Homo sapiens: one gene and its partner. The protein of the gene in region 1 interacts with the protein of each later gene in a biochemical or structural test. Each region holds a gene or a part of one and is shown on either strand. Other genes may lie near its edges. The genes, in order: TENT5D and FBXO7.

Region 1 (4,524 bases):
AGCTAGCTAACTCTTTGTTCATCATGTCCATTTTATCTGTTACTCTTTTCATGAATTTCTTTGCATAATTTGTTTTTTATTTTTTTCAATGGGATCATAGACCCTACCTCTATTCTTCACATTCTTTTGAATGAGGATTGAGTTAATTAAAGCACTTAATACCTGACACATTATAAGCATCATATAATTTTTAGTTATCATTGCCATTTAATTATGTTTAAAAATTCTACACTCAAAAGTTTAAAATTAAAAACTTATATTCAGTATTATATATATCATGTAATGTAATTTTCATATCTTTAAGAAACTGTACACGTATATTTTTCTTTAAAATTAAACTCCAGTGTAACATTCTTTATATACAAGGATTAGGATTATAGTCTTAAATGTTACTAAAAATTATTTATTTCTTTGTCATATATTATACTGCCAGGAAAACATTGAGTAGGTATCTTGTTTTACCTTTGGCCCCTCCAAAATGTATTTAGTCTTTTCTATGTTTTACTGGAAAATGCTATAAATTATCTATCTTAAAAATATCACATGGATCACTGGCTTAGCCAGACAATTTTCTTCCTATATCTACCTATTTGCCTATCTTTGTAATCTTGATATTCTTATTCAAACAGTTATGTGATAGTTTCTATAAATTGGACATACTGTAACAAAACATTATTTTGAGAAGAACTCTGTCTTTTAAATGTTCTTTTTAAAAATTAGTTGTTGGCACTCAAAACAATTATACTTATCAACCATAATACTTTTTTAACTGTTTCTTTTTGAGACAAAGGCTTGCTCTGTTTCTCAGGCTGGAGTGCAGTGGTGTGATCATGGCTTACTTCAGCCTTGACCTTCTGGGCTCAAGCAATTCTCCTACCTCAGCCTCCTGAGTAGCTGGAATGACAGATATGCATCCCCACACCGAGCTAATTTCTTTTTATATTTTTTATAGAGTCGAAGTCTCTCTATCTTGCCCAGGCTAGTCTTGAACTCCTGGGCTCAAGTAATCCTCCAGCCTCAGCCTTCCAAATTGCTGGGATTACAGGCATGAGCCACCATGACCAGCCTCTTTTTAATTGTTTAAGAATTTTTTTTAAAACAAAAACATGTTCACTTGGGGGTAAAAATTAAATAGAGAATATTTTCCCAAATTCTGTATTTCAGAAATTACAACTTAATTTTGAAGTTACATGTAGGCAGTTACAATACTTACAAAACAAAAATGTTTGCCTATCTGTGTGAATCTGCATGGTTTAACTGGTTATTTTCACTATTTTTTTCTCCTTCCTCCCTCTTCACTATTTTTTAACTTAAGTTCAAGTATCTTGAGGAACCTGTTTTTAATCTTTAATATATCTAGTATAACATTGTCTTTTTTGAGATTTGGGACTCAGAATTGCCCTATTTAAATTTATTTTTTGAAAATTCCCCCATCTATAAGAGCATTAATGATGCAATAATAATATTCCTTGTCTCCTGGCAACAGTAACCCTGGAATTGCAGCAAGTGAGGTGTAGAGAATGTGTGGAGATCAGGTGATGCAGAACTCTGGTAAAGGATGTTAGTCTTCAGAGTAAGACTGTTAAATTCAGCAAAGTCTACTATCAGAAGACACGGTGAGCAATCTTGTAGAAAGGGAGTTTTTCTTTTAGTTTTAACTCTGAGCACACATCAAAATTGACGTTTAATTTATATTTTGTCCAGAAACTTATTTGATTCAACTAAAATATCTTTGAAAATTATCTCTTTCATTAATAACTGTGCCCAAAATCATGGCTGTGGTAAAACTGAACTCAGTTAATATGTTTAAAAGGGCATCAATAATTGTTTTAATATTTTATTTTCTGAACTAGCTCAAGAGTAAGAGATAAAAGACATAACTGATACGTTGATATAGTATTAAGAATTATGTTTTTTCAGAACTCTAGAGTAAGAGAGTTACAAAACTCCCTACGTCCTACATTAATTGACTGACACATTGACATCTCAATAAATAGCCTGATGATGGATTATTTTCAAACTTTAATTTGTTTCTGAAGTGAAGTATTAAAAGACTATACCTAATTCCTTTTTTGATATCAAATGTTTTTAATTACTACATACCAGTGAAAGAAAGTTATTGTCAGGTAATCAAGCATGTTTACATATCTGTATTTTTTTTATATAGTCCTGAACTTCCTTTTCAGATTATTTTTTTTCCTTTAAAGCACTCATGTCTTATCTCATTTGTATAGTTTTTGTTTGTTTGTTTGTTTTTTAGATGGGGTCTCACTCTGTCACTAGGCTAGAGTGCAGTGGCATGATCTCGGCTCACTGCAATCTCTGCCTCCCAGGTTCAAGCGATTCTCCTGCCTCAGCCTCCAGAGTAGCTGGGACTACAGGCATGCACCACCACACCCAGCTAATTTTTTTTTGTATTTTAGTAAAGACGGGGTTTCACCATGTTGGCCAGGATGGTCTTGATCTCCTCACCTCGTGATCTACCCGCCTCGGCCTCCCAAAGTGTTGGGATTACAGGCGTGAGCCACCGTGCCTGGCCTCACTTGTATAGCTTTTAAGTACCTTAAGAGTGAAGTTACCTTATTTTCCTCTAGTAGAACAATTTAATGCAAGTAAAGTTTAGAAAAATAATCAAATTAATCATAAACTGAATGGATTTTATTAAGCCAATTGTATTTTAAAATAGCAAAGACTGCATTTTGAAATTGTTTCTTTAAAGAATGCCATTATCATTCACCCTTTTTCTCCTATGAAAATTAACTGCAGATGTGAGAGAAAATATGAGGACCTGAATATCTGTAGCCAAACTAAGAGTAGAAGGTGTTGAAATGAGGGAGGGGACTTCCCCATGATAAGGAGACTTAAGGAAAAAAGTGACTAGAAAAAAATGCCACGTCTTTCAGCAAAACTGCCTTCTGAGCGTGAACTTAAATTTGTATTTGTGTTGGAAATGCTTGAAGAAATGTGAGGAGAAGGAGGAGTTATTTGTGTGTCGGGGGGTGGGAAAAAAAGTGGAGGTTACTGAGTGGGAGGTTGGGAATTCATGGGGCAAGTCATTATTTATAAGAAAAAAAGGGAAAATAGTTTTTGGTATAGGAAAGGAGAAAGGTAGTAGTATCCCATGGGAGAAAGTTCAGCAATGAAGGAGAATGGAAAGTAATAAGAGATCACCCCACCTAGGGTAGGTAGAATCCATATGATTCCTTCTTTCTTTATTTCTCTCCCTTTAAAAAAATGCCTTTCATGGCTGGGTGCAGTGGCTCATGCCTGTAATCCCAGCACTTTGGGGGGCTGAGGTGGGTGGATCACGAGGTCAGGAGTTCAAGACCATCCTGACCAACATGGTGAAACCCCGTCTCTACTAAAAATACAAAAATTAGCTGGGCATGGCAGCGCATGCCTGTAATCCCAGCTACTCGGGAGGCTGAGGCAGGAGAATCGCTTGAACCTGGTAGGCAGACATTGCAGTGAGCTGAGATCGCGCCACTACACTCCAGCCTGGCAACAGAGCTAGACTATGTCTCAAAAAAAAAATTGCATTTCATTTTATCTTTCTTTAATGGCCCCTTCTCTTGCTTGCCTACTAGCAGGCTCCCTCCTGAGCCTCACGCTAACACCACACCCCTGTAGTTTTTCTCCTTGATGGGATGGGTTTGAGGAGAGCAGCAGTTGGTGAGGTAAGTTTTAATGTCTGAGAGGGTGCGGTGAGTAGACGGGGAGAGCTATGAACAGAAGTTTTTTGGGTTTTTTTTGTTAGTAAAAGGCTTTTTCTAGAAACATTGGGATGAGTTTCTACTTTTCTCCTTCCTCAGATAGTGTTTAAGAGGGATGTGAAAGATGTATATGGTGTTGGCTATAATTCTGGAGTCCCCTTCAGAGAATACTTAATTCCTTGAGTGTTGACAGGGTTATCCACAGAGGGGTTAGTGATTTGGAATGATGTGGATAAAGCTTATGAGGTTACTGGGTTTACTGTGAGGGTCATGGCGAGTTGTACAGCATCCAGTGCAGAGAGAATGGCATTTTGGTCTCACTAGGTGGCTTTACCTCCCAGCTTGCTTGAAAGCCTGTTGTACTTCAGAGTATTCTCAGCGATTCCCTTCAAAAGGGGCTGGAGATTTCTCTGGCCAGCTTGCTTCTCTGAAATTGGTGGCAGTTTGGAGAGGCAGCAACTCTGCATCATTTACATCAGAAGCAAGAGAAGCTCACTTGGTGACTGTTGAATTCACATAGCTATAAATCTTTACCAGCTACAGCCACTGGAAGGGGCAGAGGAAGAGTAGGAAGGGGAAGTAGTACTACTGTTGTAGTTTTCCCAATGAAGCAAAATATGTAGCAGTATTTTGTTGTTTGAGATAGTATCCAGAGTTTTTTTTTTATATTTAAGAGAATTAAGGAGCGTGGACACAAGGGTGAATTTCAAGTGAAAGTTTAATAAGCAAAAGAAGAACGCTTTCTGCAGCAGACAGTGGGGCCCAAAGGGGTTCCCCACCATGAGGCCGGGGTTCAGGGTTTTTATGGACC
Region 2 (3,820 bases), on another chromosome or scaffold:
CAGCTTATACACCCCGCTCAACTTCCACTTCTCCGGCATGGACAGTGCTTTGGCTTCGGTGCCCTGGGGAACGAAATGAAAGGGAAACAAATAATGAAGAAAGGTGTTACTCTCAAAAAGATTAAAAATCCAAAAGACTCCTAACTTGTTTGAAATAATCACTCCACACAGTCCTCTTAATAAAATGCATCAAATCATTAACATTGCCAATATATTTTATATTGTAGGATAACCATATTGTATAAGATAATATATTAGAACACTTTTAATCAAAATTTTTGTTCAAATAGGTAAAACTGCATCATGGAAACAGGGATTGATCTCTCTCTTCAAAGACTCACTTCTCTCCTAGCAAAGCCATATGATTATTTAAAACTCCGGCTCAAATATCACTTCCTCCGTAAAGCCTTTTTCAAAGAAAAATTGTTTGCCATTTCCTTTCATCCCCTAGCATTCTATTCATATTTCCATTACACTTCAATTGTATTATTATCTATGTTTACCTGTGTTATTTCTGAGTATCTTTTTATTCATCTCTCTCCTCTATGTATGGACTCCTTGAAGACAAGAAATATCCCAATATTTTTATATCCTAATTTCTAGGTCAGTGCATGGCATGCTGCAGGTGTGCACTGATCACCGAACTACTCTGTATCTTTGTAACTTATAACATGGCTCACAGACCAGCAACATTGGTATTATGCAGGAGTATGAAGAAGTTCACGGTCCATTCTACAGTTACTAAATCAGAATCTGCATTTTAATAAGGTCCCCAGGTATTCCAAAGCGCATTAAAGTTTGAGAAGCAATATTCTAAATGTTCTCCTCCATGAATTCCTGGCATCCTATATATGAGTATGTTTCTCCCAGAACTTCACCAATATAGCACAGTGCTTTATATTTTTGTCTCTCTCTGCCACTCTCAGACTACGGGCAACTTGAGAGCAGGAACCATCCACATGTATGAGCAATCATAAGATGTCTGTGTTTTGCTTGCAGTACTTACCTGAGGTATGTAACCTGACTCCAACATGAGAAGATGTATCAACACTATCAAGGCATCATTGGCATCAGAACAGTCAGCTGATTGATACAAGGTCTCTAATGAATGTGGCACTTGCCCTTCCACCGATTCACTACAGAGCATGGGTTCTGAGGGATAGAAACCTGTGCCCTCTGCCATATGCGCATTATCTTGAATTGACTCAGCTTCAAAATTTTGACTAGGCCCTAACTGAAAAAGGAAAACAAAACAATGAATTAATTAAAGACTTATTTTTACACTATACATTTTTGTATCCTAAAGTGAACTAAGTGCTGAAAGTCAAAGTACATCATTGGGTTCAGAAATGGGAGACATTTTAAGTGAGTCCTTACAAATAAATAAGCCTGCGACCTACTCTTCCATCCTGAATTCCTTACCTCTGTTAATTCTAGCTGGTATGTCAAGAACCTGGAAATCATCCTAGACTCCTCCCTCCCTAACTAAACCTTGTTCCACATCTGATCAGTCTTCAAAGTTCCCTGAAACTAACTCCTAAATATGTCTAAAATTTGCCCCTTCCTGCTCTATTGGCACTTCAAACTCTCATCATTTATTTCCCGACATCCAGCAAGAGCTTCCGTTGCAAGTATCCCTTCTTCAACTTTCTTGTCTTCCAATACACCCCAGTCCCTGCTGCCAGAATTTTCTTGACAATTAAAAATCTGATCATGTACTATGTCGCAGCTTAAAATTCACCAGTACCTCCCCAACATAAACAGCATTTCCCTCAATTGTGCCTTAGATGTTCTTAGGAAAAAAGGTGGTGCACACGGAATAAGTGTGGAAAATACTGCATGCTGCAGCCACCTAACTTCACCCTCCATATTCACAAAATACACTATTCGCATTATATAAGCACTGAGGAGTCTAATAACAATAATAGTGTGTGCCTAACACTTTACCAAAAAACACTATCCTCCGTCCTCAGCAGTCAACATCCCTGTGACACCATCTCATGAAACTAGATTTTCAGAGGACACTGAGAAATGCAGGTCTACAAATGAAGACCAAACTTCTAAATCCCTTAGCATACAAAGTCCTTCATTACCTGATCTCTGACTCATTATCAAGTTCACTTTCTGCCAGTGCCTTCTTACTCATCCCAGTATTTTCCACTTCTTCAAAAGAGGTAACACAGACCACAACTCTGCCTTGCAACGGGCTTGATTACTGCACCTTATCACACTGCACTGTATTGCAATTTTCTGATTACATATCTGCATCCTTCCATGACTGCAAGTTTATAAAAAACCAGACTACATGTCACCCATTTTTGTAACCCCAGTAAAGTACCTAGCACATAGCAGGTATTCAATGTTTGCTGAACAAATGCTGAAGGATAATACCTTACAACTTCATAATGTCTTTATTTTCAAAATGTTTTCTTATTTGCACTTTATAACAATCCTATAAAATAGGCATGGCAGGTATCGCCTTTTTATAGATCCTATAATTATAAATCAGAAAGATTAAATAACATAATCAAGGTTACCAGCTAATAAAAATTTGAAACGAACCCAGATCTCTAAACTTGCAGTTCAGGGCTTTGAGATGTAATACATGGCTTCAAAAAAAACTAAGTTACCTATATTAAGTTTGCTCAGAAAGCTTGTTTCCTAGGCATATGCCCAACTCTTAATGCAAAGCATACGTTTCGTCTTTTTAGGGTTTGTTTAAAGAAGGGGCAAAGGAAATTAAAATTACACAGTATATGTAAAAGGTTGGAGAAATGGAGGGGAGCCGGAGGTGACAGCTGTTCTTCCAAAATCTCTGAGGACCTAAGCCCTAGGGCTTATGGAAAAGATCCAAAGTCACCTGTTAAAACCTAAAGGCCAATGACAAGTCACATTACCCAAAAAGGAGGTATGGCACAAAAATATTTCCATATTTCCTAAGAAAACAGAAACAACTACATTAAAAACCACTTAACATCAAGCTAAACTATGAAACATAGGTTTTGCTTCTTTACCACTATGTCTAACTTTTGGCCATTTACTACTTATTGGCAGTTGTGTGGGACAGAATATATGAGGAAAAATGAAAAAGGGTACCCTAGGCTGAGTACATGAGAGGGAGATATCAAAATCCCCTGCTGGGCTTGTCAAGCCTTACTACTACTCCATAAGAACCACTGACATTCTCTGAGCTATTCTGATATGAATATTTATCAAATTCTTCACATGTGTAAAAATGAAAAAAAAAAGGTGAGCACCACACCTCTCTAAACAGATCATTTTGCCATATGTCATTTACAAAAGACTAAAACAAGTGACTAAGATGCATGAGAGCTAATATTAGGTTCTGATACCTGCTACCCGTTTCTCATTAAAGACTCAAGAGGCACTCGATGAATTCCCAAATATGATGAAATAAGAAAACTGATATTTAATTACAAGAGTAAATTTACCTCCTATGGTTTCAAGTTTTACGCATCTATTTTCCTTTTCTAATGCTCCATTCTACATTACAGAGTGTGATGTACTTGAAAGCATTATTTATGAGATCTTGAGCTCAGTTTCCATACTCTAAAGATTTTCCTGTCACCCTTTACAAGTCTTGGAATACAAAACAATATGCAAAATCTTAGAACTGAAATTAGTAACTTCAGGCAACATTAATTTCTCAAAATTTTCCAAAAGGAAACTAGCAAACTATCACAAATACTGTGAAAAGCTTCATCTTACTAGACAACTTTAAAAGTACACAGAAGTAAAAGTAATGGCCCCTACTAAGTCATCCCAGAACAAGTCTATCAGCAAAAAAGACTCAGAAATA

What was found.
Region 2: of the proteins of TENT5D (region 1) and FBXO7, one has a biochemical effect on the other in vitro, tested with the Homo sapiens proteins (one large-scale study listed by BioGRID).

Annotation. Positions count from the first base shown.
Region 1 is NC_000023.11:80,418,948-80,423,471, forward strand, and holds the start of TENT5D (terminal nucleotidyltransferase 5D), read left to right. Parts: upstream 1-1,499; 5' UTR 1,500-1,616; intron 1,617-4,524. UniProt on the Homo sapiens protein: Catalyzes the transfer of one adenosine molecule from an ATP to an mRNA poly(A) tail bearing a 3'-OH terminal group.
Region 2 is NC_000022.11:32,481,311-32,485,130, reverse strand, and holds part of FBXO7 (F-box only protein 7), read right to left. Parts: intron 1,235-3,820; coding exon 1,007-1,234; intron 64-1,006; coding exon 1-63. UniProt on the Homo sapiens protein: Substrate recognition component of a SCF (SKP1-CUL1-F-box protein) E3 ubiquitin-protein ligase complex which mediates the ubiquitination and subsequent proteasomal degradation of target proteins and plays a role in several biological processes such as cell cycle, cell proliferation, or maintenance of chromosome stability.